5 separate regions of the Homo sapiens genome follow, and regions 1, 2, 3 and 4 are each linked to region 5. Evidence: fine-mapped expression QTL. A gene starts in region 5. Each other region holds a variant in brackets. All regions are shown on one strand. Distances are between the middles of the regions. Region 1 holds the start of RAMACL (RNA guanine-7 methyltransferase activating subunit like). Region 2 overlaps RPS6KA2 (ribosomal protein S6 kinase A2). Region 3 has its middle 48 kb from the start of RPS6KA2-AS1. Region 4 overlaps RPS6KA2 (ribosomal protein S6 kinase A2). Region 5 holds the start of RPS6KA2 (ribosomal protein S6 kinase A2).

Evidence for each region. PIP is the estimated chance that this variant, and not a neighbour inherited with it, causes the effect.
Region 1: its variant is the best candidate, but not a certain one, in a credible set for the expression of RPS6KA2 in blood mononuclear cells (TOPMed, PIP 0.72).
Region 2: its variant is the best candidate, but not a certain one, in a credible set for the expression of RPS6KA2 in monocytes after interferon gamma (Fairfax 2014, PIP 0.85).
Region 3: its variant is the best candidate, but not a certain one, in a credible set for the expression of RPS6KA2 in whole blood (INTERVAL, PIP 0.79).
Region 4: its variant is the best candidate, but not a certain one, in a credible set for the expression of RPS6KA2 in whole blood (TOPMed, PIP 0.77).

What each region holds. Positions count from the first base shown.
Region 1 is chr6:166,586,322-166,592,270 of GRCh38, reverse strand. All of the region lies in intron 1 of RPS6KA2 (ribosomal protein S6 kinase A2), which reads left to right. It overlaps RAMACL (RNA guanine-7 methyltransferase activating subunit like), which reads left to right and starts at 5,593. Exons shown (of 1, transcript NM_001395999.1): 1 at 5,593-5,949. The coding sequence starts at 5,794. RefSeq lists enhancers at 2,813-3,072, 3,653-3,702 and a silencer at 5,251-5,390. The variant TG/G (reference allele first, on the strand shown) is at 4,035.
Region 2 is chr6:166,465,863-166,472,100 of GRCh38, reverse strand. It overlaps RPS6KA2 (ribosomal protein S6 kinase A2), which reads left to right. Exons shown (of 21, transcript NM_021135.6): 11 at 2,196-2,260. Among named protein-coding and RNA genes, the nearest start is that of RPS6KA2-IT1, 3.6 kb to the right of the region's middle. RefSeq lists enhancers at 771-1,674, 1,675-2,578. The variant A/G (reference allele first, on the strand shown) is at 3,540.
Region 3 is chr6:166,852,867-166,859,104 of GRCh38, reverse strand. It overlaps a transcript of RPS6KA2 not described here. Among named protein-coding and RNA genes, the nearest start is that of RPS6KA2-AS1, 48 kb to the left of the region's middle. RefSeq lists an enhancer at 5,004-5,982. The variant G/A (reference allele first, on the strand shown) is at 2,614.
Region 4 is chr6:166,578,452-166,584,689 of GRCh38, reverse strand. The region is part of intron 1 of RPS6KA2 (ribosomal protein S6 kinase A2); the gene reads left to right. RAMACL (RNA guanine-7 methyltransferase activating subunit like) reads left to right here. Exons shown (of 1, transcript NM_001395999.1): 1 at 1-1,681. Among named protein-coding and RNA genes, the nearest start is that of RAMACL, 5.1 kb to the left of the region's middle. RefSeq lists enhancers at 3,026-3,846, 3,927-4,427, 4,428-4,928. The variant A/G (reference allele first, on the strand shown) is at 3,020.
Region 5 is chr6:166,624,881-166,628,880 of GRCh38, reverse strand. RPS6KA2 (ribosomal protein S6 kinase A2) reads left to right here and starts at 1,630. Exons shown (of 21, transcript NM_021135.6): 1 at 1,630-1,960. The coding sequence starts at 1,862. RefSeq lists silencers at 871-930, 1,181-1,350, 1,411-1,760.

The DNA.
Region 1 (5,949 bases), 38 kb after region 5:
AGCTCTCAGCAGGCCAGGACTCCACATAGAGCAGAGAATTCATTATCCTGTTGATTTCTCCATGACCCTCGCTACTATTTATAATATGTGACTCTCTAGTTCCCTCGAGAAGTCTTTCTCTTTCTGCTGGTATTTGGTGAAGTCACTTTCTCTACAAGCCAGGCCCATCTCTTGCCCACTTTTCAGGACTTCTGAGAACTTTCTGGTTCACTGCTGCGCCCTGGCTGGTGATTATTTTTTAAACAGAACGTCCATCATTTTCTCATTGTCTAAGCTCTGAGTGATTTCTGTATTGCAGATGCTTCTGTCTTCTGCAGGTACAGTGGGCCCAGCCAGTGCCATCAGTGTGGGCCGGCTTGGGTTTGGGGGCTGTTGTCCACAGCCTTCTGTCTTGTGGAACTCAGTGTGTAATACACACAGGCTTGAAGGTGGCCATGGTGGGTACACTGATGAGATTTTAGTAAAAACTAAATGCTGGGTTAGTTTTCTGGGGCTACTGTAAGAAACTACCTCGAACAGGTGGGATTAACCGACAGGAGTTTATGCTCTCACAGTCCTGGAGGGTGGATTTCCGAGACTATACCTGGGCAAGACCAAGCTCTCTCCAACGCCCTGGGAGGATCCTTCCTTGCCCCTTCTGGTTTCTGGTGGCCCCAGGCACTCCTTGGCTGCCTCCATCATCTCAGGGCCGCCTTCTTGGTGTGTGTCTGCTTTCCAGTGGCCTTTTTAGAAGTCATCTTGGATTAGGTGGTCATCCAGTCATCTTGGATTAGGGCCACTCGCCTCCTCTGTGATCTCGTTTTAACTAATCACATTTGCAGTGATCCTGTTTCCAAGTCAAGTCACATGTTTCCAAGTCAAGACATGCAACACGTCTTTTTTCAGGGGTGGGGGGCACACATCAAACCATGCCCATGCCGAGCGCCATTTGGACGGAAGCAGCCACACTGTGACTGGTCTAAAGGCATTCTGCTCATCCCAGAAGGCACTCCAGTGTGGCACTGTTGGTCGCGTTGAATGATGGTAACATCTTTCCGAGGTGCCCCCAGGGCCTCCCGTGGAGGGTGTGTTTGCTGAGTCCTTGCACGCTGGCCTTTTCCATCACCTGCATCTATGAAGAGTGCCTGGGCGACTGTGAAATGCCTGGGCTGCAACCTTTTTGTACCTGATGCTCAGTGAACATTGCTCTCTGGCATCTTCTGGCATTTAATATGTAGAAGAGAATTCTAAAGTCAGACCGAGACAACCTGTTTTTCTGCTTTTGTGATGCTTGTAATTAAATAATGCTCAGATTTGACTCTTCATTGACTGTGACATGGCAGGCAGATCCATTTTACTTGCAAAGGTTTGTGTGGGTTGGTTTTAATCTGTTTTTAAATCCAGCAAGGCCTTACTCTAAGTCGTGTCTTTGATGATCTCTTCCGTTCCCTTATTTATGCTCTTTGCCTGGGGCCATCACTTATCCGTTAGTGTTGATTATACTCACTGCCTCAATGAGGTTTTTTTTTTAATTTTTTAAAATGAGTTTTATTGTGTATGTTTAAGGTATACATGATGCAACGGGAAATGAGTAGAGATAGTAAGAAGGTTACTGCAGGAAAGCCCATTAACATAGACGTGCTTTCAGTTATGCACGTGCGTGTGTGTGTTGTGGGGCAAGAGCAGCAGCAATCAACTCATTCCACACGAATCCCCTGTATAGTACAGTGCAACGACCTGAAGTCCTCAATGAGGATTTCAATTGTGCTGCTGCATGTCTGGATTCTTCTGGGGCAGGCTGATGGCATGGTTCTCACCCTAAGTCATGCTCCTCGCCAGGCTCCATCTTTAGGTGTGCCCAGCCCTGAAATAGGATCTGTCTCCTCCTAAAGCAGAGTCTGACACGGAGTTCACACTGGGAATCTGTGAACTTAATCTTACGTGGATGCTGTATCTGCCAGACCCTAATGACTGATTCTTATCAGCGTTTAGTAGGTTCTTGCTCCTCAAAGCCTACTGATGTAGGAACTAGTAATTTACTGTTCTGATTCTATTTCCCACTATGTCCAAGTTTTAAGCAAAAAGTATAAGCAAAACAACAAAAGAAGCAAAACCAGAAGGCTGCTCTAATCAAATAGATTTAGTCTTTATCATCCCGATGATGCTTGCCAATTCCAGCCCCTGTGTCTTTGCTTGAGCTGTTTTATTTCACCTTGAATGCCCTCTCCACAGCACCGTCTGTATTCCCCCCAGTTCCCTTGCCTCCTCCTCTGAGCACCCCAATCAAGCTGCCCAGGGGCCCTTCTTCCTCTGGCCCTTCCTGTTCTTGTTTTCTGTGTATCTCACTTGCATGCCTGTGGCCTCATTTGTTGGGTTGGTGGGTATGATCTTGTCTCCCGGTAAGATCCCAAGTCTCTCTCCATTCTGTTCATGCCACAGTTTAGTTTATGTTGTATATCAAATCTAGGAGTTAGAAATTTTGAAAATGTTTCCAACAAATCTGATTTGTTTGGGCCAAAGCACTGGGTGAGAGTCTTCTGTAAGACTGATAGACCACGCTCTGTTTTTCATGCAGAGATGCTGGAGACACAGGTGATGTGCGCCCATTTCTACCAACAGTCTCTATTGGAGCTGATAGTAAAAGCTGAAAGTTCAATTTCCCAGTTTCCCTTTAGGCTCTTATTTTCTGCGACTTAATGAGGGTAAAATACCTAAGGGTAGAATGACATTGTTTATGCAGCCTTCCATGAAGCATGACTGATTTCAACTGATTTCAATTCTAAGGGTACAGTCCCTCCTGTCGGGCATAGAAGATACTCTGACCATGGAGGCTGGGTGTCTTTGGCCGATGAATTGAGCTGGGTTATTTTTCAATTCCAGTGTGGATATGTAATGGCAATAATTTAGAACAAGTGCTCACAAAAGTGCATACTTAGTGCTGCAGATTAATACTTCCCATCCTTTTTCTTTCTTTATGTGAAAATGAGCAAAGGAACCCCAGGAGGGGCCCTGGAATGCACCGTGGTTTCCTGTTGAGCTGTTGAGCAGACGCTTTCTCCACACTGGCTGTGAAACATAAATTCACTTTTGGCTTTTGCTGGTGGTAGGAGGAGACTGGCCCCATAGCCATCATTTTTATTTCAATCTGACCACCTGTTTCCAGAAAGCCTGGGGCTCTTTTATAAAAGACTTAAATTTTGAAAGAGTAGTGGCAACCCCAATGTTACTAATTTCAGCTCTGACTCATCAAGGGCTTAGAGCTTCTTCCTCCTTTTCTGCGGGGGCACTCCCTTGCCACCCACCTCCTAGATGCCCTTAACCACCCACTCCTCCTCCCCCCAATTTGGAAGTCAGCCCTGAGAAAGCGACAGTGTTCCTTTTCCATCTACTTGCTGGAACACAGGTAGTCGCACCTGGCCACCTATGCATGGCCTCTGCTGGCCGGGTTGACAGTGAGCACGGAGGGCCATTGGCTGCCGCACCCTGTCTGTCATGTGCGACTGCCCAGCTGGACTCTCTTCGGGCCCTGAGCTTCCGGGAACCCTGTGTCCATCATCAGGGCAGAGTAGCAGCCCCAGGTTACAGGGCAGCAATAAAGCCCACATTCTGGAGTTGAGATCAGACGATCTAGTTCCACCTTTGATTGTTTTTCTGTACAAATAGGAATTATGTACATGCAAGGCTACAAATTAGATGGCAAAATCAGCCAGAGCGAGAGGTTGGGGACAGGCAGAATTTCCCCAGATTCTGGTGTCTCAGCGACGTGCTGCAAGTTCCCAGCGCAGGGTCCCTGTGGAAAGGAGGCAGCAAAGGGATGTCGTGTGCCCAAGAGGAGTCCCCTAAGACCCCCAGTTCAGGTGCATGATGCTCTGTGTGGCTAGGGCCTGTGGAATCCAGTTCAGCCACCCCTCATTTTTTCTGCAGAAAGCCACCCCTGCAGCAACTCGCTGGCCCCACCTGGAAATTATAATTTAGGCCTGTGAGCAGCTGCACACACTCATAGGCTGTTTCTTTGCAGAGATTTGATTCTGCTGTCCACCTGCTGAATGTGAAGC[TG/G]ACTTTGTGGAGGTCCTTGTTCCTCTTTTTAAACCACACTCAGGGAGCAGTGGAGGGTGAGGGCCCTGGGATGGAGCTGAGCTCCTGCCTTGTTTACTTCAGACCCCAGCACAGTGTGTACATTGGGGAGCAAAACGAAGGTCCCCTGTTTCTTGGAAAGAAGTTCACTTTTAGTTCATGATACGAGAATTCTCTAACCATCACTGGGGTCTCAATTTTCATTCATTTTATGCTGCATATTTTGCATTCAGATGTGATAAGCCAAACAGATAAAAAACAAAATAAATTCACTGTTGTGGCTGGAACCTGAGTGAGTGAGGAGGGCGCAGGGTCTCACTCTCACCTCCTCGGGGTTCTTCCCCACAGGGCAGAGAGCGCACAGTCCCGGAAAGTCCTGCCATGAATGACAGCAGCCAGCAGGAAGTCAGACTCTACCCACTGTGCTAGTGAGGCCAGACGGCTAGTTTCAGCGCCTTCAGCTGTGGCTTTTCAGAGACGTGGGCCCTTCATCTTCTACTTCTGAATCCACTTATATATTTTACATTTTTGTGTGTGTATATATATATATAATATTTATTTTATGCTGGTTTGCTTTTTTTTTTCCAATGGCAGACTTCAAAAAGGGCAGACTCGTTCAAGAAAGATGTTATATCACTGCATGAGATATTCAGGAAGAACTAAAGTGTTATTTTTGAGAACCCACTCTATGCCAGGTACTGTTCTGGGAGTTTTACATGCGTGGGTTCATTTATTTCTCACAACCACTAATCCAGGTAGGACCCCCTCATTCTACATAGGAGGGAACTGAGGCCAAGGACGGGTGAGGAGCTTGTCTGATGCCACACAATTAGAGTGACGGTGATTAGAACTGATTTTGATGGTACATTTCTCTTGTACTTATGAAAAGCAGATACGAATCTCTAGTCTGTGCTTATCTCATCTTTCTTGCCTCCCTCTGTCCCATGCCAGTGTCCAACCAAGCCTTTCTTGGGCCTGTAGGGCTCTGACCCAGGGTCTCTGGACTGTGCACTCTTGTGTTTCAGGAAAATATTTCCCTGAGTTCATAAAAGAAAAATTATTTCTTCCTTATGTGTTAGTCTAATGTCAGGGTTCCTGATGACTGGCCACTTTGCTTCCACATGGGGATTTGGGGGACCCAGGCTTCTTCTTTGTAGCTCCACCAGCCCTAAGGGCCTGCAGTTAGCTGTGGGGGGAAAGAGACTATGAAAGAAGCACCTGCTTCTTTAAGGTACACCATCCAGACACACTCCATTGGCCAGGGCTAGTCACATGACCACACCTGCCTGCAAGGAGGGCTGGGTAATGTAGTCCCCACTGGGAGGCAGCTGAGGGGAGCCCCAGTCTATGGCAGGAGCAGAGATTTCTGAAAGCTGTTGGCTCCCTCTGCCCTGGAGGTAATGCTGAAATTTGACTTTGTGTATAACTGATGTGTGTTACCTTTGTCATGTCTTCAGAATAAACTGTGGTCATTCTTTTTCTTTCCTCCTCTGGTATATATATGGACTAGTTCATGGGCCTTATTAAAAGACTTGTTTGGAGAGGAAGGCGCTCGGTTACATTGGAGAACTGGAGTGGTCTGGAGTTCCACGGTGTAGTGGACCAGAGGCCACCTCTCCTGGGCTTCTCAGTGTCTCGCCGGCGGGGTTCGGCCTGAGCTGGATAGACATAGCCCTTGGCGGATTTAAACAACCTAAACATTAAGCAATACAGCTGCCTCAAACCTTTGGGATTTTCAGAATGACTGACACTGCCGAAGCTGTTCCAAATTTTGAAGAGATGTTTGCTAGTAGATTCACAGAAAATGACAAGGAGTATCAGGAATACCTGAAACGCCCTCCTGAGTCTCCTCCAATTGTTGAGGAATGGAATAGCAGAGCTGGTGGGAACCAAAGA
Region 2 (6,238 bases), 160 kb after region 5:
AGGGTCTTTCTGTTAATCATCGTGACCAGAAGGACTCTTCAACCCAGAGTTCTGGTCATCATCAAAGGAGGCCTGCACACAGGATGGGCGCTTGGGGAGGGCTGTTTGGAAGTCAGACTGTCGCTCTGGAAATTTCATTACAGCAGCCACTGGTGCGCCTGCGAAGGCTCATGCCAGCTGCTGCGATTGCAAAGGCCTGGGATCAGATCCCTGGGCTCAGGGTTTAGAGGAGAACAAGGGAGCTAGACTGGGGACCCGGAGGGGCCTCAGCAGGGAGTCCTCGGGAAAGACACTTCAGAAGGTGGGGCACCTCAGCTGCTTTTCAGACATGTGCCTCCAAACCCAGTACCTGTAACTCATAACCTCTGGTCTGATTTTGAACAAGCTACCCAACCTGTGTCAGCCTCAGTGTCCTCGTCTGTAAAATGGGAACAGCAATTGTGCATCGGATGACTGAGATGTCCGTGTGCTATGTCTGTCCTATGATTCTGCGTCCTCATGGAAGGAGAAACTCCTGAATGTGTGCCCTTCCTCTAATTCCTTCTAGATGGACTTTCACGTCAAAGTGTGAATAACACAAAGCTGAGAGTGCTGTGAGAGTGCCTTCAGGGGCATTTAGTATGTGGGTTCGTTCCTAGCACCATGGCCCTGGCCAAGCTTCCAGGGTAAGGGGACTGTCTCTGAGCCGTTGACCACCTAGAGGCGCTTTCTGAGGCCACCACAGCCCCCGAGCCTCCTCCACATCACTGCCCAGAGTGCGGAATGGAGGGGTGGGAGGGGTCAGGACACGGGCAGTTCCAGCCAACGATGGCACCATCTGCTGTGACTCCCGGTGACCTGCGCCACTCCAGGCCAGCTTCCAGCCGGACAGGCCGGGCCACACCTGTGCTGACCACAGCATCCCCGGGCAGCCCCGCTCTTCCAGGAGTGAGAGCTGGACATGAGGGGGGCTCCACGAAGGGGCATACATGGCACAGGAGGCTCTGATTTGGAGCACAGCCGTTAGGAGTTGGCAGCGGAAAGGAACACAGCTTGCAGAACAGGGGAGCCGGGCCCCAGGGATCAGACCCTCCCCAGCCCTGGGCCCGGAGCTGGCAGGAATTCCCCAGCCACCGCCGCCACTGCCCCTTCCAGCCAAGCCCGCCTCTTCTCGGATTCGTGACCCGGGAGGATGGGCTCCTCTGTGGCCGTCCCATCCTGGAGAAAACACAGAGTCCTAGAGCTTTAGGGCCTTTTGTTTTTAATTAATAGACTTTGTGTTCAGAACAGTTTTAAGTTTACAGAAAAACTGAACAGAAACTGCAGCAAGATTCCACGGCCCCTCACTCCCTGCCCCACCGCTTTCCCGAACAGTAGTGCCTCCGTGAATGGGCACGCTTCTGCAGTCGGTGAGCTGAGCTACTGACTAAAGGCCTTGTCCACACTGGGCTCGTTCTGGGGGGACAGTGGCGATTTCTGGCAGATGAGTGGACATGTATCCACCGTTAGGGAATCATGCTGCCTGAAAGGGCCCCCAGCGCTCCGCCTACTCCTCCCTCCTTCCTTTCTGCCCCAGGGCCTTAGGATTGTACGCAACAAAGTAAGGGAGGAGGTTAGGTAGAAATAACAGAACAAAGCAGAGATATTTGTAAGCAGCCTCCAGGTAAACACAGTCACCTGTCTGAGCAGGCTCAGGGGTGGCCAGGTGTGGGCAGGAGGCTGGGCTCTGGCTTCCTCCGGGACTCAGTCCTGTCAACTCCTCTTCATTTCCTGGAATCCTTCCCTCCCGGGTTAACTGCAGCAGCTTTGCCAGGAACTCTGCTCTGCACCTTCCCCTCCGGCCTCCTGGGAGGTCCACCTGGTGCTCACACTCACAGGCACCTCAAGCTCCTGGGGGTGACAGTGGGGTGCTAGGCAGCCGTCACATGCAGCAGGCAGCACCTGGCTGGCCTGTCCCATGCTTCTCTTGACCACCTCTTTTGCTCACTCCAACCCCAGGCCACCTCTGCCTCACAAGCCCTCGGGGCTGAGTCGTGGCTTTCTGAGCTGGGGGCATCGGCAGGTGCGCAGGTGCCTTGGGCAGGAGTGAGCAGCCTCTGGGCTCCTTCCCACGGCCCCACCTCTGCACATCCCCACCCTCCACACTGCTGCATTGGAAACTGTCAGAGAACCCCATCTTGGATTTGTTCTGATGATCATTTCTGTGTTGTTGACAGGTGCTGGCATTGACGGAGTGGAGGAAATTAAGCGCCATCCCTTCTTTGTGACCATAGACTGGAACGTAAGTTGCATGCCACAGTCCCCACCTGCACACGCGTGACACAGAAGTGGGTGGAGGGAACATACGGCTTGGTGCAGAGGGTCCTCAGTGTCCGGGTCACAAGTAGGTCGGAGGTGAATGTAGACAAGCCACCTGCAGGCAGGGAGCCCCCAGGACCCTGCTGAGCGGGCTGGCAACTTGGGAGGCACAGACACGTGAGTGCCCCTCCCTCCAGCTTGAGGCCTGAAGTCCCCTCAGCTTTCCTCCTTCTACTCTCCTCTGCCCATCAGAGTCGAGGCTTCTGTCCTCCCTGCACCCACTCCCCGGCCTCTCCGAGCCCTGCATATTCCCGATTGCTCCAGGAGTGACTGTCTTCTAACCTCAAGGGCTGAACAGACAAAAGTCATGACAAGCTGCTCAACCAGGACCCTTTAGTGCTAGGGCTATGGGCAGGCCCAGATTCGATACTGCATTTTCCATCGTTAGTCAAGCTGATGCCCACGTGGAAGTCACATTTAAAAAAAAAAAAAAAAAACAACAGTGCCGAGTTGTTGGAATAAACTGGAGCTTCTGTTAGTGGAGTTATTGGTAAAGCCTCCATTTCCAGTTCTCTGGGCCAGGCTGGACATTGTCTGAGAAGTTCTCGTATCTCACTTTTCACCAAGCTACAAGTGTCAATTGCCTATTTCTGCCAAGACGCCAACTCCGAATGGTGAAGCAGTCAGCGTCTGACGCGTCCCCCACACAGGGAGTTCTCGCGGCTAAAACTCGGAGGCTGTTCCTTCCATCTGAGGAAGGCGATACCTCCTTTCCTATCAGTTGCTTTCAGCTCTTTCCTTTAGGTTAACACAAAAACAGCTATGTTGGGATTTTCTTTTCCTGACCTAACAAATTAACCTCAAAAGATTTTAATGGAACACTTTTTAAGATTTAAATGCCCTCTACAGTATAGAGTTTATTATCTGCTTTCGCTTTCCTCTCTGTCTTCTTTTTTTTTTTTTTTTTAGTCTCGCTCTGTCGCCCAGGCTGGAGTGCAGTGGCGCGATCTCGGCTCACTGCAAGCTCCACCTGCCAGATTCACGCCATTCTCCTGCCTCAGCCTCCCGAATAGCTGGGATTACAGGCGCCCCCACCACGCCCGGCTAATTTTTTTTATATTTTTAGTAGAGACAGGGTTTCACCGTGTTAGCCAGGATGATCTCGATCTCCTGACCTCATGATCCACCCACCTTGGCCTCCCAAAGTGCTGGGATTACAGGCGTGAGCCACCGCGCCCGGCCTCTGTCTTCTTTATGTCCTC[A/G]TGGAGTCCGGGGCCTCCACGCATTTCATTAAGAGGTGGGCCCCACCTGCAGCCCCAGACCTCTCCTCTGGGAATGTGTAACACCAGTGCTGGATAAAACCAGCCAGCTCTCCTCTTCCTTCAGCCTGAGCCCCAGCAAAGCACTCAAACTGGGGAAGAGTGATAACTTTTTAAAACCTAGTTTTACAGTTCTGACTAAAGAACTTTCGTAAGATTAGACTTCTTTTCGAAAGTAAGATTAGAGAAAAGAGTGTAAAGTTTCAGGACATCTGTGCCTCCCAACCAGGACCTCCAAGAAATGAAAACCAAGGCCTCCCTTTGGAGTCTCTTACTTAGCTTCCCTGAAAATTTAGGCTTATCAGAAGCTCAGGCTGTGCTCACCTCACAGATGGGCACCTAAGGTCACTGTCATTCGACTCTGCGTTGGAATGTATTTTCTATGGAGACTTCACCTTACACGGCGTTTAGATCTCAGGCAAGCCTGTTTCATGAAGAATGGACCTGGGTGTCAGCCTGTGGATGGTTAGCACAGCACTGTGCCTGGAACCCAGATGCCTGCCCCTCAGGGGGTCACAGCATGTTGCATCCCCTCCCCTGCCTGCCAGTGGTTAAGGTGGGACCACACAGCTTCTCCCCGTATGATCTGCTTCTCCATTTATCCAGCCCTTTCTGCTGGGCGTCCCAGTCTCAGGCACTTTCCAGGGCTGGGGATAGAGCCGTAGATGGAACAAAGTCCTGCACCCGTGGGTCTTGTGATGACTTGGCAGAGAAAGGCGGTGGACAGATGGGTCTGCACATGTCACAGGAGGACACTGTGCTGACAAGGAGGATGCAGCAGGGGACAGATGGAGAAGCACACGAAAGTGGTCAGGACAGCCACACCTCACCCCTCCCATCCTCACGGAGCCTCCTTCCCATGCCTCCATGGAACAGGTTCCCCCCAAGCACTGGCTCCAGCTGGTCTGGCTTCCAGGGCCCCTCCTGCCCAAGTCTCCCAAGGGCTCACTGGTCTCCTCCTTCCAGTCTGCCATTCAGTGTCATCTTATGAGACCTGTCCTGCGGCTCTTCCAAACTGCAGCTCCTCTCCCAGCACCCCAGCCCCCGGCCTTGCTCTGTTTTCATATCCCTTATCACTTTCTGACTCGCCTCAAAATACCATGTGTTTCTGATGTATATTATTATTTTCTGTCTCCTGCCACTAGAATGTAAGCTGCAAGATCAGGAATCTGTGGCTTAGAGGTGTATCCCACAGCTCTAAAACAGGGCCTGGCTCAAAGGAGGCACTTTATGAATCCCTACTGAGTGAGTGAATGGATGAGTGAGGGAAGGAGGGAGTGAATGAGTGAGGGAGTGAATGAATGAGTGAGTGAGTGAATGAGTAAGGGAGTGAGTGAGTGAGTTAATGAGTGAGTGAATGAATGAGTTAATGAGTGAGGGAGTGAGTGAATGAGGGAGTGAGTTAGAGAGTGAATGAGTGAGGGAGTGAGTGAATGAGTCAGTGAGTCAATGAGTGAGTGAATGAGTGAGGAAGTGAATGAATGAGTGAATGAATGAGTAAAGGAGTGAGTGAGTTAATGAGTGAGGGAGTGCATGAATGAGTAAGGGAGTGAGTTAATGAGTGAGTCAACAAGTGAGGGAGTGAGTGAAGGAATGAGTGAATGAGGGAGTGAGTGAATGAGTGAGTGAGTGAATGAGTAAGGGAGTCAGTGAGTGAGTTAGTGAATGAGTGAGTGAGGGAGTGAGTGAATGAGGGAGTGAGTGAACGAGCAAATGAATAAGTGAATGAGTCAGTGAATCAGTGAATAAGTGAGTGAATGAGTCAGTAAGTCAGTGAATGAATCAGTGAATGAATGAGTGAGACTCTCAAGACAGGAGTCACAGCTGTCGAGGGAGACTTGCCCCCTCCATTTCCTCACTCTCACACTCTAGTCCTTCCTCCAGAGACCATGCCTGGGAGAATGGAGAACCAGGATTGCTGGGCTGGGAGGGGGAGCTGCAGGTGGGCAGGGCAGCATCCTGGGATGGGAGACCCTGAGGGCTGCAGCTGGTAGGAAAGAGAAGTCTCTTCACACCGAACCCCCAGGTGACACAGTGCAACACAGAGCACTCAGCCAAGAGTGGAGCCACTCCAAAGTATGCATGGCCCAGAAGGGCTTACGCACTTGCTAAGACAACCTTGTGAGATGCCTGGAATTTTAACAATACGATGGATTTGGAAAACTATGACACATTAGATTAATGTGCATTCCAGAATGCTGAGGTCCGGCGAGCTCTGAGCAGAAGCCGCCTTTTTCCTGTGGCAATAAGAGCCTTCTCTACACAGCGCCTCTGCTCAGGGTGCTCTGGTCTCCCTGTGGCTGGAAAGCAAACACAACCCAAGAAGGTGGCATTTCTGCGTGATTTCAAAGGAATCAGACTAGAATCAGAGCTGAGAAGTTCCTTTTGTTGCTCTTAGCACTTAATTTGATTTTATTTTGGCCTTGTTTTCGTTTTGAGAGAGGTCCTTGTGATTGATCAGAACCAGGCGTGTTTCCTTCATGTCTGTACTTCCCAGAGGAAGGCAGGCAGCAGTGCTAGAGGAATGGCAGGCTCTTGTTCTGCCCAGCGCCCTGAACCCACACAGCCCGTGAGTGGCAGAAGAGCTCAGAAATGCCACTTTTGCATTAATTCATGCATTTGATAAATAACGCTTGGTGCTC
Region 3 (6,238 bases), 230 kb before region 5:
AGTAATAATGACAGCAGTTCACTTTGCGTGTCTGCTGCATGGCAGCTGGTGCTGATGGCTGGCTGGTGTTCTTCCGTGGAGCTCTCCCGTGTCTGCTGCATGGCAGCCGGTGCTGATGGCTGGCTGGTGTTCTTCCGTGGAGCTCTCCCGTGTCTGCTGCATGGCAGCCGGTGCTGATGGCTGGCTGGTGTTCTTCCGTGGAGCTCTCCCCACATCTCTAGGCAGAAGCACTGCCATGTCTCCGAGGCCCAGGTTAAGCAGGTGGCTCCAAGTTGTTAAGTAGAAACCAAAGACTCAGACCCAGATGGTTCCACTTAAACCTTGTGCCAACCACAGAAACACTTGCTTTACGTTTTATGGGCTGGGCCTCATTTCTCTGCTAGAATCCATTCTCCCAGCACTCACTTGGGACTGTGATTTGGTTCCGTTCTCATGGGAGTGGTCACACATGCCTTCACCGCTGCTCTGTGCTTCCACATCAGCTCCGTTCGTATTTTAGCTTCATGAAAATCCACGCTTTCTCCACTGGCAAGAATCACCTTGTCGTCCTTTAGATTGTACCGTAAGTCACACTCGCTTCATTGATTTAGTCGTTTGAGTTAGGGTTTAGTGTGAACACTCCTTGCCTTACTTACCACCTGTTGTATAAAGGATCCATCTCGGACATGAAGCATCACACAGTTAAACATAAATTCAGGTGGGAAGGGACGGTGATATGGTTTCCATGTCCTACAGAAATCATGCGGGATATTTAGTTAGTACTTTTTCATATTGGTAACCTGTATGAGGCCACCTACAAACACATGGCAATGCTAACCATCTTTAACATCTATCTTTGTTATCAGACCACAGAGGAGGATCTCAACCTGGATGTGGAGCCCACCACAGAAGACACTGCAGAAGAAGTAACTATACACGTTTTATTACACTCTGCTTTGTTTGGGGAGATTGGGCCCAGAAGGTGGTGAAGGGGGAAATGGAAGTTTGAAATTAAATATCTGTGAGCAGTTATTTTAGTGACATATGTGTCTCTATACATACACATGCACAAACGTGTATATATGCATATGTACATATCATGTGCTTATTATATTCGGTAATCTCCCTCAAAAAGAATAGCTGGAGCATAGGACGGAAGGCTGTCCATCGAGGTAAAGTTCATGGTCTCCTGGCATGGGCACTTGTGAGGGTCATGGTGCATTAGTACCAGTCAAGGAGGCCTGGGAGTAACCAGCTGGCATGGAAGCCTGGTGTGGGGCTCCCTGTACTGGAAGTCATGTGACACAGCTGCTTAAAATGTCTGATGAGGTGCTCAGCAGAGCTGGGGAGAAGAGCGGATTCCATCCGTGGGGAGTTGCCTTTCCAGTGGACGGAGAGGAGTCCCAGGGCCTGTAGGGGTTGACTGGGAAAGAAGGAAAGAGAGACAGGGTATCAGCCCGAGGTGGTCATCAAACGGAAGAGAAGAAAGAGCTCTTGCTGCTGCAGGCTGTGCATTTCTTCATTTTCATGCTGTGCAGGAGCATGGGCCTGATCCAGGCAGCAGAAAACAGACTTAGACTTTAATAAAGTGAGAGTATCTCGGCAACACTGGTGTTCTCAGGGGAGATTTTGGTAACGATAAGTGTATCCATCAGGGAGACACTGGCCAGCAAAGAGGTAAATTGGAAGGCTGAGTTGAGGCTGTAGTCAAGGCATTGTAGTTACGCAGCCACACTTCCACCACTGGTAAAGCAAACGCTCTCAGAGGCAGCCGGAGCCGTGGGCCATTGACTTGGCCATTAAGAAGACTGAGTCGCTCAGCCACATGCCACCTGGAGCCAGAACAGTTAGAAAATTTGCAACTCTGTTGACTTTTAAAATAGCTGGCAGATATTGCAGACTGGAAGGGCTGGATCGATGAACATTACTGGTTTTAGAAAATGGTCTGCTCAGATGCTGAACGCTACGTTTCACTACCATCTAAACCTATGCACACCAATGCAACATTTAAGCCAAGTGTCGCTGGATCTTATGATCCGATGACATAGCCCACTGGTTAAATAAAGAAAAATGGCATTCAGCTGCCTTACGTTTATCCAGCTGCCTTTCGGTTCTGTGCATTTTCACTAATCTGGGAGTCTAGAGTCCAGCTCTCTTCTAGCTGCGCAGCGATCCAGCTGCGTTCTTGAACACTATGCTTGGCCTGGCCTTGTACCTTTGCATCCCCTGGAAAAGTAGATAGCGCTGCTTTTGCCAGTTCCATGATGATCAAAAGGTAGGCAGGCATGAGGCAGTGACTCTCCTGAAAATATGATGCTCAATCTGATACTTGCAAAGTGGTAGGGGTAGGAAAGGAAGATGTACCTTCCCAGCAAATTCATAAGGCCAAAGGTCTCAGAGAAATGACTGGCTGTCATTTTTCAGAATACTTGCCTAGGCTTTTGTAGGAACTGTGATTTCCAGGGAACTTTCAGTGTGTTTACTGCAGACAGACTTATGTGATGACTTAGTAGTTGGCTTCAGGAGGCTGACGACAAGGCCCTGAGCCAGGATGGGTGGAGCAGACTCTTCATTCTGCTAGGTTCAGTTGAAGCAACAAGATTCCATAACACCATGTCCTGCTGCATTCAGGCT[G/A]CCATAGCAGAATGCCACACTGGGAGGCTTCTACACAACAGAAAGATATTGCTCGCAGTTCTGGAGGCTGGGAAGTCCACAATTAAGGCATGGCAGGTTTGATGGCTGGTGAAGGCACACTTTCTGGTTCATGGCCAGCCGTCTTTACCCTTGTCCTCACGTGGTGGAAGGGGCAAGGGAGCTCTCTGGGGTCTGTTTGATAAGGACACTAATCCCATTCATGAGAAGTCCACCCTCAAGACCTAATCACCTCCCACAGTTCTCACCTCCTAACACCATCACCTTTATTGCTAGGATTTTAACATATGAGTTTTGGAGAAATACAAACATTTAGACCATAGCACATGTTATGCCCCAAAGTGCATGTATACAACTAACAGAAAATCCTTTAATTCATCAACAGTGTTTATTTTTTAAGAGCTCCTAGTCTCAAGTTGTCGTGTTCTCTACATTTTTGGTGGAAATCTAGATGTGAATCTATCATAGAATGTAATGAAAGTAACCAACCTCTTTAAAAGTTGTTTTTGATAACGGAATATCAGATGGAGGAAATTATTACTGTTTCCTGATGCTTACTGTATCTGGATAATAGAAAACCAGTATATCTTTGCATCTTAATAAATGAAGGAATAGAGTTCCAAACAGATTTTAGGAGTATTTTGCAGAACTATAATCTTGATATTTAGGTACATTTGCAGTATTTGTGGGAAGAATGAGAAAATACTGGAGAAAATTACTTGTTTACTTGATGTTTCTGATAGATGATGCTGAAAACCCAACATGGAGTTTTTTAGTCTAGCTGCAGATGAATGTCATTTGAATACTCTATGATGTTGTGTAACTTTTGTTAGAGACAGGCTTTCGACATCCTTCTTGGCCTCCAGAGGGGTTATTTGCAAGGTCTTCTCTAGGTTAGGGATTTATGGCTCAAATAAAAGAGCCATATTCTGAACCACAATCACAAAACCCTTCTTATTCTTCTTCTTCTTCCTCTTCTTCTTCCTCTTCTTCTTCTTCCTCTTCCTCTTCCTCTTCTTCTTCCTCTTCTTCTTCCTCTTCTTCCTCTTCTTCTTCCTCCTCCTCTTCCTCCTCCTCCTTCTCCTTTTTCTTCTTTTCCTTCTTCTTCATCTTCATCTTTGTCTTCTTCGTCTTCTTCGTCTTTTAATAGATTTAGGGAGTATAAATGCAGTTTCGTTATGTGGATATATTGTGTAGTCATGAATTCTGGACTTCTAGCATAGCCATTACCAGAACAGTGACCACAGAACCCAACATGTGATTTTTCATCCTCGCCCCCACTCCCACGCTCCCACCTTTTGTAGCCCAGTGTTTACTCTTCCCCCTCTATGTTCACGTGTGCTCATTCTTTAGTCCCACTTATAAGTGAGAACATGCGGCATTTCTGAGTTACTTCACTTAGGATAATGGCCTCCGGTTCCAACCACGTTGCTGCTAAAGGCATGATTTCATTCTTTTTTATGGCTGAATAGTATTCCATGATGTATCTGTATCACATTTTCTTGATTGAATTCTTCGATGTTGGACACTTATGTTGATTCCATGGCTATGCTATTGTGAATTGTACTGTGATAAACAGATAAGTGAAGGTGTCTTTTTTATATAATAATTTCTTTTTCTTAGGGTAGATACCTAGTAGTGGGATTATGGATCAAATGGTAGTTCTGTTTTTAGTTTTCTGAAAAGTTTTCATATGTCTTTTGTAGAGGTTGTGCTGATTTACATTCCCACCAACAGTGTATAAGCGTTCCCTTTCTCTGCATCCTTGCCAACATCTGTTGTTATTTTGAAAAAGAAAGAAATTTTGTGGCAACTAAACTGATAAACGTTTCATGCCTCTTGCCAGTCTGAACATATATGATAAAAAGTCATCTTATTTAGGAAAAAAATCATTCAAGTCAGCAGCAGTTTTCCCATTCATTTATTCAGCCAAGAATATTTATTGATAATCTGTAGGCCAGGCATTATGGTTCATGGAAAAGAATAAAAAGGTGAGCGAGGCTTGCCCTGGAGGAGCGCAGGAGGTGCTGTGATCACTCCAACTTGTGAGTACTTTCACTGATATGAGTTTCGTGGAGTAGACTTCTCACATAGTTTTTGAAGTGTAGAAGGCATTTGGGATAGCTCACATAGGATATCTAGGCATGTGATTCCTCACGTTACGGTTCTGTGCAGCTTCCAAGAAGGTGAGTTCTGGTGAAGGTCCCGTGTGAAGCTTGGGTGTAAGACAAGATGTCTGTTCTTGAGCTTGGGTGTTACTGCAATACACCTTTATTCACCATTGCTGAGGGAACGGCCTCCTCCCTCAAGAAGGCAGTAGTGATGTGGGGGAGTTTGTGTCATAAATTCACGGGATGGGTGGATTCTTGGTCTAATTTCATCTGACGCATCAGAGGCAGGCATCCTTCATATTCTGAACAACAACCACAAAACCCAGCAGATTCTGTCAGGCAATACGTCTTTAAGAGATTACTTGAAGGGGCTCAGTATAGCGACATCACAGTCGTGGAAGAAAAATCTAGAAGCAAAATGACTCCTGTGAGCAGGCGAGGCCCTGGCTCCCTGAGGCTCTGGCCTCTCCCCATCCTGCCTCTCTCCTGCAGGCCATGTGTACTGAGGCAAAGGAGCACCGGGGCTGAGAGCGCCTCCATGAGGCGACAGCTCCGTGCAGGAAACAAGCTCGTGGCTCCCCTGGGGACTGCCCTGCAGGCCTAACTGGGCGGACTTGTTGAGGGTCTAGAGGCAACCTGCTGTCTTGTTGCCTGGGAACCTGATCTGGATGTTGGGCCAAGTGTACTCAAACGAACCTCACAGCCACACTCGTGAGACTTAGGTGGCCACGATGCTGAGCATGGATCTTTGGTGGGATAGGACGTGGCGGCGGCTGCGCTCGGCCAGCCTCCTCTGAGCTGCTGTGCTGGGCGGTTGGGAGGGCTGAGGCTGTCCTGATGGAGGAGGAGAGCCAGCTTCAATGGCTTTGGGCCAGGAGAGGCCCCACCTGTCCACTTCCACGGCACAGAGGCGAAGTCTGTGCAGGGCCAGGCAGCCCCAGGCTCCCGGGTCTCTGTGCTGTTTTATCGTCTTTGTTCCCTACATGTTCTTAGATACATAGATGATTTTTAGGTGAGTTTTTATTTCACAGAACAGCCTTTGAAAAATATTAGAATTTGTTGCATGAATTTAATTAGTTTTTGTTTTGTAGACACAGGGTCTCACTATATTGCCTAGGCTGGTCTCGAGCCCCTGAACTCAAACGATCCTCTCGCCTTGGCCTCCCAAAGTGCTGTGACTACAGGCATAAGCCACCACACCTGCCCTGTTGCATGGATTTTTAAAGCGCTTAGATTTCAGGGTTATGTTTATTGATAACAATAGGACCATTTTCTTGTTAGGTCAACTTTATAAAACCAGATCCAGGTGTTATTGAAAATGTCAGCGTGATTCCACTTCATTTCCTTGTGGCTACGGGGGTACTTTCCCTTTCCTCTCAAATTTTACTCTGTTTTTCATAGCAGAATAGAAAGTATCCGGGCGAGGGGGCAGGGCAGGTGCATTTCCTGCTGTCACCATCAGTTGGCAGGACACAGCCACACGGGGATCACAGGGT
Region 4 (6,238 bases), 45 kb after region 5:
TATAAAATAAAGTGCAAAAGATCACAATCACAGATAGAAATGACCAGATTGGGGTATACTGAGTTTCCTTAACATCTGGAGAGCTGCTGAGTATCCCCAGAATGCCCAGGCATTTTTCATTTATTAATTGTGATGTCATGACATAACTGGCCTAATAGAGCTATAAAAAGTGTTGTAAGATGTAAATGTTGACATTTAGAGTGTCCCTGTCATCACTGAGTATGGTCATGCTGTTACTACAAATAAGGGATGGAATGTTAATGGACTCAATTGTATCCCTCCATGTTCACATTTGGAAGCTCCAACCCCCAGTGTGATTCTATGTGGAGAAAGGGCCTGTAAGGAAGTAATGAAGGTGAAGTGAGGTCCTAAGCCTGGGGCCCTGATTCGATGGGAGTAGTGTCCTCAGAGGAAGAGGAAGAGAGACCAGAGCTCTTGCTCCACCACGAAAGGGCGCTGCAAGAAGCAGCTGCCTGTGAGCCAGGAATTGGGCCCTCACCAGGACCAAATGGCTGGCACCTTGGTCTTGGACTTCCAGCTTCCAGAACTATGGGAAATAAATGTCTGTTTTGTAAGCCACCCAATCCATAGTACTTTGTTATGGCAGCTCAGGCAGACTAAGAAAGGAGCAAAACACACCAAGGCATTTTAAATTTATTAACCTTGTTTCGTTGCACACCTGGCCTACCAGAGCTATAAAATACATTTTAAGATGCGCCTTTTTGTTGACCCTTAGAGGGTCACTATCACTATGGGGTAAGGTGATGAAATTACTTGAGCTAAAGCAACTGTGTTGACTGTGTTTTGCTCTAACCTATGTTACCATTAGATAGAACCCATGGAAGTAAAATGCTGTAGAAAAACGTGAGAACCAGCCAGTTTGCACATTTCTTCCTGTGGCATAGTACTTCCTTTGGCGTGATGCCTCCTGGACTGAAACAAGCCAAGTGAGATACGTCTTCTGCCATCCAGAGGAGAAAGCCACAGTCTTGTGAGTCTTGTCTCTTTTGGCCATTGGCGCTTTAATAAGCACTCAGGAATTCAGTGGGCTTAGCTTCGGTTTTTAATGACAAACTGTCACGTGAAGACATTTATCAGGAGCGTCTCTCCTTTGTCACCTCTGGACAGTGGGTGGGGAACCCTGGTGTAGACATGACTTCCGCAGTGTTTCAGCACGGCCTGGCCAGAGCTCAGAGAAGGTGCGCAGGATGCTTAAGCTCTCCACCACCAGCTGCTTCTTCCCATTGGTTTTCGCCTCTGTGCTTTGAAGTTGCTCAACAATTTAATCACCAAGACTCACAGGAGGCAAAGTGGAGGGAGCCGTTTCCGCAGATCACAGCGACAGTGCTGTGGTTTGCCCCAAGAAGGCCGTGATCTCTGGTGCAAGTCCTACAGGGTGCAGAGTGCTAGACCCTAGGGTGAGCTGGACATCAGGGCCTTGGATGAGGCAGTGTGCTTTCTAAACAAGCAAGAATTCAGCACTTTTAGCTCACAAGTAGCAATTTGGTTGTTTCTAGGATCTAATTATGTGTAATATGATACCTTGAAAAGTATGCGAATGCGAGTAAAACTTACCAAACTGCTTTGTCTTTATTAGAATTGATATTGAAATAATTATCGTGTATATGCTTCAAGTCTGTTTATCCCAAGTGAATTATGAATAAAAGCAGTCAACGACCAAGTCAAGACAAAGTGAGTGAATTTTAAAGTAGGAGAAAATGTGGAAGGTAAAAAATATAGTGAGTTATTTTTCTTAAATCTTCAAATTATTATCCACATCAAGTTACCAAAAATATTTAAGTTTTAAAACCAACCTATTATACTGCTTTATTCCATAGCTTTTATTATTCAAGAGGTTTTTTTGTGTTTTGTTTTTTCTTCCTCTGCACATTGGATGCATAATAGCAATTCTTACATAAGAACCCCTAAAAGAAGTTCTTTCAAAGCGTTCTGGCTTTTTCAGTCAAGATGGAAATCATATCTAACCTCTTGAATAATGGAAATTTTATTACTGCCCATTTTTTGGCACTTTTTCTGTGGAGAAAATAAATGCCATTTCATTTTCCAAAATAAGATGTATGCATCTATGTTATGAATTTGATAAAAATTCATTGCATACTATAAAACTTGTGATTTATGAAAAATCTCTCAGAGCTCCATGCTACATTTCAGTTGTGGAATGTAATTTGTGATCGTAAAATGGCTGCATATTCATCTCCGCCCAACTAATGAGGTCATGGTGGTGAGCAGCTGTGAACAGTCAGCGTGATGGGTTAGTATATGGTCATTTAACACATGTTCACTCTCCCAAGAAGTTTGGTTTTGTTGAACACATTCATGGTCAAATGAAAAGGCTTTATTTCAAAAAGTGCATGCCACCGGAAGCCAGCTCAACAGTTCAGATCTCCATGGACGGCTCAGCGGCTTTCAGTGGCCACTGTGCTCACCCTCTCTGTGCCCTCCTGCTCACCCCACCTGCCCATGGGCATCTCACCCCATCTCACCTCTCCCTGTGCCCTCCTGCCCAGCCCACCTGCCCAGTGGGCGTCCCACCCCATCTCACCTCTCCCTGGGCCCTCCTGCCCAGCCCACCTGCCCAGTGGGCGTCCCACCCCATCTCATCTCTCCCTGGGCCCTCCTGCCCAGCCCACCTGCCCAGTGGACGTCCCACCCCATCTCACCTCTCCCTGTGCCCTCCTGCCCAGCCCACCTGCCCAGTGGGCGTCCCACCCTATCTCACCCTCTCCCTGTGCCCTCCTGCCCAGCCCACCTGCCCAGTGGGCATTCCACCCCATCCCGCCCTCTCCCCGTGCCCTCCTGCCCAGCCCACCTGCCGAGTGGGCGTCCCACCCCATCTCACCCTCTTCCTGTGCCCTCCTGCCCAGCCCACCTGCCCAGTGGGCATTCCACCCCATCCGGCCCTCTCCCCGTGCCCTCCTGCCCAGCGGGTGTTCCCTCCCCATCTCGCCCAGGGTGGGTCTTCATTTGAAGTGGTGATTTCCAAGGGCTTTCAAATCTA[A/G]ACTAGTCTGTTTCTGGGTATAATTCTCTGTCATTCAAATAGAAAGTGAATATAAGGAAAATGGACACAGCGAAATACCCACCCACTGCCCCGCATACTCGAAGCCGGCCTCTCGGTGGCCTCAACAGGCTGCCATGCCTGGTCCTTGGGTTTGTGGAAAATGCCGAACCCACCTGAGCACTTGGACATCAAGTCCCTCAGGACAGTGGAGCGTAGGAGAAGGAAGGGCTGAGCGGGGCGTCAGTTCCCTCCCTGAGAAGCAAAGCACTTTGACCTGCGCATCCAGGTGGGTGTAGAGAGGCCTAGGCCCCAGAAGGCGCTGGAGCCCAGGTGCTGTCGGCATTCTCCGCATAGGCCCTGAGGGGAAGGTTTTGTCATGAGAAAGGCTGATGCTGTCAAAAGCAGAGTGGATGTTTGAGTGGATTTTCACATAAAGAATCATAGACAATATGTATGTGCAATATTAAATTCCTCAGCCCTGGCCAGACACAGTGGCTCAAGCCTATAAACCCAGCCCTTTGGGAGGCCGAGGCGGGCAGATCATCTGAGGTCAGGAGTTCGAGACCAGCCTGGCAAAACCCCTATCTACTAAAAATTACAAAAATTAGCTGGGCGTGGTGGTGTGTCTGTAGTCCCAGCTACTTGGGAAGCTGAGGCAGGAGAATCGCTTGAACCTGGGAGGCAGAGGTTGCAGTGAGCCGAGATTGCGCCACTGCATTCCAGCCTGGGCAACAGAATGAGACTTCGTCTCAAAAAAAGAAAAGAAAAGAAAAGAAAAATTCCTCAGCCCTTTTTCTGTTCATTAGAAATCATTCCTGTGGGTTTTGTGTCTTTAACCACTTAAAGATTTAATGTCCTCCCTTTCCTCCGCCCCCTACGCATGAAAATCCAGTCCGTGTCCAATCGGGTCTGGTTCCCCCAGGGACACAAGGCACACTGGGCTCATTGGGACTTCTGGTCTCATCCGTCCTCACTGGGGACCCACTGAGGGGGTCAGGGGTTGGGGGTGGGGTAGACTGAAAATCAGGTCTTTTTGCTTAGTTTGATCACATACAATGACAGGCATGGACTGGGTACAATCCAGAGCAAGCTTGTCCAACCCGTGGCCCAGGGGCTTTGAATGTCGCCCAACACAAATTTGTAAACTTTCTTAAAACATTATGAGGTTTATGCACTCACCTTTCTTTTCTTAAAGCTCATCAGCTATCATGAGTGTTAGCGGATTTTATGTGTGGCCCAAGACAATGCTGCTTCTTCCAGGGTGGCCCAGGGAAGCCAAAAGACTGGACACCTCTGAAGTTTCCTTCAGACCTTTGGATATGCACGGGACTATGGCTGAAGTCAGGGTGTGTTGGCACAGTGGGTTTGAGGCTACGCTCCAGGCTTAGTGGACACCTGTTCTACCTTTGCCGGCCCTCAGGTCCCTGAGAGCCATCGGGTGACTGTGTCACTTGGGCCCTTTCCTCTCCAGCTTTTCACAGTGTGTCCTGTGTGAGTCAGCCTGAGACTGGAAGTTCAGTGGGCACATAAGGGAGGACCTCCCTGATCATTAGAACCAAGGGGCAGGCCCGGGGGCCCAAAGCCCACTGTGATGGGGGCAACAACTCCAGAACCTCCGGGCTGAGTCATAGAAAGACGGCCCTTTAAGCATGTTCAATGCTGAACTTGATGAAGTGCCGTGATTCTAAAGGTCGCAGTTAGGAAGGTGTTGTCACTATGCATTCCCTATTCTTTTTGGCTGGGATAACAGAGGAACTATCCTCAGATTATTTAGTTGTCTTTTTTTTCTTCTCAAAACAGTATGTGAGTTATTTGCATAATCATAAAAGAGGACTATTTAAGAGGTCCATTCTTTAGAGATAAAATTTCAATAATGTGATCTTTAGATCTTAGAAAAAGGAAAATGTAGAAAATGTCAAATCGTGAAATTTAGCGACATTAAATACCACAACACTGGTCTTCTTCTGCCAAAGGAGCGGTTGACACTTTTCACAGGCTGCTTCCTTCTTGTAACATGACACATGGCGTTTCCTAATGGCCTGAATCTTGAATACACCAGTTTCATGGTGACGTAGGATGTTCATCTTCTCCAAAAACAATTTTGTGCTTGGAAACATTTTTTATTTAACATTTTTCTCCAAATTTTGTTTAAATATAACCCACTTGTAACTAGCCAGTGTAACAATGTATCTTTAATAATTGCAGTAGAATTGCCACCACCGAAACCTCTGGAAGCATGACATTCTTGCATACATTTCTTCCTCCCCAGATGGCCTGTGGGCGACAGGCCAGCACCACTCCAGGAAGGGCCCGAGCAGCCAAGAATTCTGTAGCATTCTGTACAGAATGCAGGTCGCACCTGTTGGGCCCATCTCAACCTGGATTTTATTATAACTTCAAATTTTATAATAACATGACATTTTATCATAATGGCACTCAAAAAAAGCTGAATGCAGAAAATAGAATACAACTATAGATTGTTTTCTAAACAGCATAAACGGATACTTGTCTAAGATCACAAACCCCTTTGGCAGATACGGCCAGGCGGTGGCTCGGGGCTGTCTTGACTGACACGCCTTCTCATTCCGGCTTGTTTTTCATGATCCACTGATCCTCCGTTTTCCATGCTGCTCGACATCAGACTTACTGTTTCCTTCTAACCTGGGCCTTCTCACTAAATGTGAAATATAGAATGCAGAGGCTTTTTGGTCTCTCTGAGTGCAGTTGAGTCAAGGTGGGTTTTAAATGCAGAATCTCATAAACTGCGTTTCTAAGCTGTGACGTTCCTGTCCCTCACATATCTCTGCACAGATCCCATCAATATCCTGGGCCAATTGACACTTTTCTCTGTGTAGAAAATGCACGAGGCGCATGGTGGAAGACCTCGGAGCTGAGCCCAGACACTCTGATTGAGTAGGCCTGCTCCAGCACAGTGATCCTGGCACGGTGACTCCTGTGAGCAGCCCTGCTGGTCCAGACACTGCTGTCACCTGAGGATCAGGTTTACAAAACCTCGCTCTCTAGATTGGAGCATGCTGGCCAGGATTAGTTTTTAAGCCATCATTTGTTAAAGAAAGAGCTGTGTTATTGTCATCAGTAGTATCTGTGGGATGCTTGCTTTCTTCTGCATTATTTAACACTGTTAAACTTCACAGCCCTAAGGCCAAAGCACTCATCTCTGCTTTGCAAAAGTGAACAGCAAAGTGCCGGAGGGCTAAG
Region 5 (4,000 bases):
TCATTATAGATCCTTTAATACATAATATGAAAATCAATTGCACTATTTAAATTCACAAAGCACTCCCACATCCGTGATCTTGCATAAGCCTCTTGGTATCCAGTAAGGGAGGTGAGACAGGTTTCACTCGTATTTTCCTCTTAGAGATGAGTCGTGGGAACAACGTGCAACGGCACCCAAGTTCACCAAGCAAGGAAGGGGCAGCGCCAGAGTCGTGGTGCTAAACTCCCGGCTTCCACTCCGGAGCAGCACCGCTCAACGCGGGTCTCCAGGAAACCCAGAGAGCCTATCTGACCTCACCTCAGCCCGGATGCAGCATGACTTTAAAGCTCTTATTTAAGGACATTCTGACCTCTCTACCCACCTTAGCCAAAATAGACTACACAAGTATTAACGCAACATCTGACTAGTCCAGGGAGCAAAACAACGCGAGGATTTTGCAGTTCGCACTGCAAAAGAGCAAGCAAGACTTGTCAACTCACCACCGCACTCGTTTCTGCTCTTTGCAGGTGGTGATGGTGCTATGTCAATGGGCTCGGTTTCTCCCTGTTTTTAAATACAAACTCAACACGTGCACAAGAGGAAAACAGAGCAGGCTGCACGGGGTCGTGAGCCCGCATTCTCGGCCCTGCTGCAGCCCTTGGTGAGCATTTCTAGGAAAAAAAAGAAAAAAGTGTTTCCCTTTAAGGCGGATCCCGAGCGGCGCTGCCGCCAGCAGCGGGTCTGAGGGCCTTGCCCTAGACCCAGGTCACCCCGCCCGGGTATTCCCAGCGCGGGCCCTGATAAGCCATCTGTGTAGACGTTTCCTAGAGCGGGACCGGCTGCGGAGGGCGGATGCGTCTTTGTTCTGCAGCCGCGGGAGGGAGGCGCCCCGAGGGCTGCCTGAGCCCCCGCCCTCGGGCGCCTTTGTCCGCTCCGGCGGAGGGAAGGCGCCGGTTCCGCGGAGGGCGGCTCCTGGCCGAGCTGCAGGGCCCGCTGGCAGGCGGCGGTCCCTCGCTCGCTGTGCCGCTGAGGTTTTGGCTGCGTTTGCTGATCAACAATTAAAGTTTGGTTCGGCAGAGAAAAACATGATGACAAAGTGTGCATAGGGATGTTTTAAGGAAGGAAAACATAATGACGGCCCCAAGCTGGAAGAAAGAGCAGCCGGGCCGAAGTTGCGTGACAGGAACGCCCGCGACTGCGCGGCTCCGGAGCAGCTGCACAACTCGCCCGGGCCGGGAGCTGTCCCGGGCCGAGGCTCATTAGGTATGCGGCGGCTGCGGGCACTGATTGGCGGGCAGTGCTGTGGGCGGGGCCGTGGGCGGAACCGCGTGGGGGCGGGGCTGCACGGAGCTGGTTCTTGTAGGAAGGAGTAGAAAGAGGAGGAGGGATGGGCACCTGGAACCACAGGGCGGCGCTGATGATTGGAGGTATCGGCAGAGGCGGGGCTCTCCCGGGCGGGGCGGTGGGCTCTCATTGGCAGTGCTGGTGGTGGGTGGGAACGGGAGGGGTGGTGAGCGCTGATTGGCCGTAGTGGCGGGGCGGGGCGGAGGAGGAGGAGGTGTGCGTGCCGGGGCGCGGAGCGGCGGGCGCTGATTGGTGGTAGTGGTGGTGGGCGTGGTGTAGGCGTGGCGCGTGGCCGGCGCTGGTACTCGCAGGGGAGGCGGAGAAGGAGGCGGAGGGAGCGATTGTGGCCCCGGCCGCGGTGGCCGGCGCGGCCTGCCCTTTGTGACCGCAGCTCGCGCCCCACGCCCCGCGCCCATGGCCGCCGTGCCGGGCTCCCTGGCCACGCGTGCCCGCCCGCGGACCTGAGCCCCGCGCCTGGGATGCCGGGGATGCGCGTCCCCCGGCCCTGCGGCTGCTCCGGGCTGGGCGCGGGGCGATGGACCTGAGCATGAAGAAGTTCGCCGTGCGCAGGTTCTTCTCTGTGTACCTGCGCAGGAAGTCGCGCTCCAAGAGCTCCAGCCTGAGCCGGCTCGAGGTAATGCGGCCGCCCTCGGGGCGCGCAGGTGCCGGGCACTGAGCGGGCCGTGGTCGCCCGAGCCCGCCTCGCCACCCCTGGGTGGACCCCGAGACCCGTCAGGGAGTTCAAGTTACTGGAAAGCTGGTCCGGTTCCGAAAATCGAACCAAACGGCTCCAAACGTTATCGCTGGGACTCCGTAGTAATTGGGCGGTCCGTGGGTCCTCGCGGGGGCAACTCCACCCCCACTGCATTTCCAGCTGGTTTCTCCGCCGCTGGCTGCACGGGGTGTGGGATGGTCCCCTGTGGGCCACAGGGAGCCCCGGGTGAGGAGGGGCTTTCTCTGCAGCTAGACCGCCGAGTGGCGCGGAGCGCTCCGCGGGGGTCCCTCAAAGTCCCGAGTGGAGAAGCCCCCCAGCTCCGCCCTCCGAGGCGCTGATCAGGTGCTGTCTGCCGTGCCCGGCCGGCAGGTTCCACCTTATCTTGTAGCTCATTCGTGCACTTGAAGTCAGTGTAGAATTCACAGAACGGGGAAGAACAGGCAGCAGCACAATCTGCTTAGGCGTCTAAAACGGCGTTCAGGAGTAAAGAGCCTGATGCAATATCCTCGCAGCGCCGAGGCTGATACAGATTCGTCCTGAAAACCCAGAGTACTCCCAAAGCCCTGTCCTTTCTACCTGTCCCGCATCTTGGCATCTTAGAGTTTCCTTGTGGACGGTTCTCTCGTGGTGTGTTTTATTTCAACCATCAAATCTTATTCTCTTATTCCCAGTGTCCAAATCACATTGTTGAATCTATAGATGACAAAACAGTGAAACGTGTTTAAGTGAAAAAGACATGGTGATGGGGAGACTGAGGCTGGGACCCAAAGATTTCGCCTGACACTGTCCCGCCTTTGCCTCAAGGCTGGCACCTGTGGGGTTTTGGTTGGTTTGTTTCAGCTGGAACAATCTCAAATGTTTCATCTTGGTTTTCTTTGTCCCAGCTGCCATGATATTAGACACAGACATGGGTTCTGTAACCATTGAGAGACCTGAGGAATAGACAAAAAAGTAGAAGAGAATTACTTGTTTAAAAAGTTTCTCTTATGGCATCCCTAAATCAGAATTGGAAGTACTAGATAGGATCAGTATGGCCGGTTCCCGAGGGTAAAACACATCTTTCAAACAAAACTGTTAATCCAGTACTGGAGGAGGGCTTGCTTTTAAGTCTAATATTGAAAGAAATGAAGCACACCAGTGAGGCAAATCATTTTCCTGGGACACAGGCACTTAAAAAATCTGAAGTTGACAAGATCAGAAACTCAGAACAGTATTTATCTTTATCCGGATACATGTCTTTGTTTCCTGTTTCATCTCAATGCCAAGTTTATTAGACAACTCCTTGTCTCCTTCCATTTACTGTCTTTGCCAAGAAGAGGTACACGTGTGAGCACACTCCAGGCATTGTTTATGAAGAGCAGCACTAGACACTGGCTGACCAGTGGGAGTTCAGGAATCTGCCTGATTCTGGATACACACGCCTCTGGTGTCACAGGGTTCTGCAAGGAGGGCTGGGCTGCAGGCGTGCCTCCGGAAAGAATACAGTGGGAAACAAGCGGGGGGGGGGGTGGGGGGGTGGTGGGAATAGGAAACGAGGTTTCTTCCATGTAGAAATAAAATTTCTAGAAGTCATACATAAACCATCAGCGATGTAGGAGGTCAAATGGGCTGAAAATACATGTAGTCTAAGAGCAAGTAGTCAATTAGTGCTTCCTGTGTGCCAGATCCCGTACTAGGTGCTGGAGGTCTCACTAAGATGGTCAATAATGGCCGGGCGCAGTGGCTCATGCCTGTAATGCCAGCCCTTTGGGAGCCTAAGGCGGGCGGATTATGAGGTCAGGAGATCGAGACCATTCTGGCCAACATGGAGAAACCCCATCTCTACTAAATATACAAAAATTAGCTGGGCATGGTGGCGCGTGCCTGTAATCCCAGCTGCTCAGGAGGCTGAGGCAGGAGAATCGCTTGAACCAGGGAGTCAGAGGTTGCAGTGAGCCGAGATTGCGCCACTGCACTCCA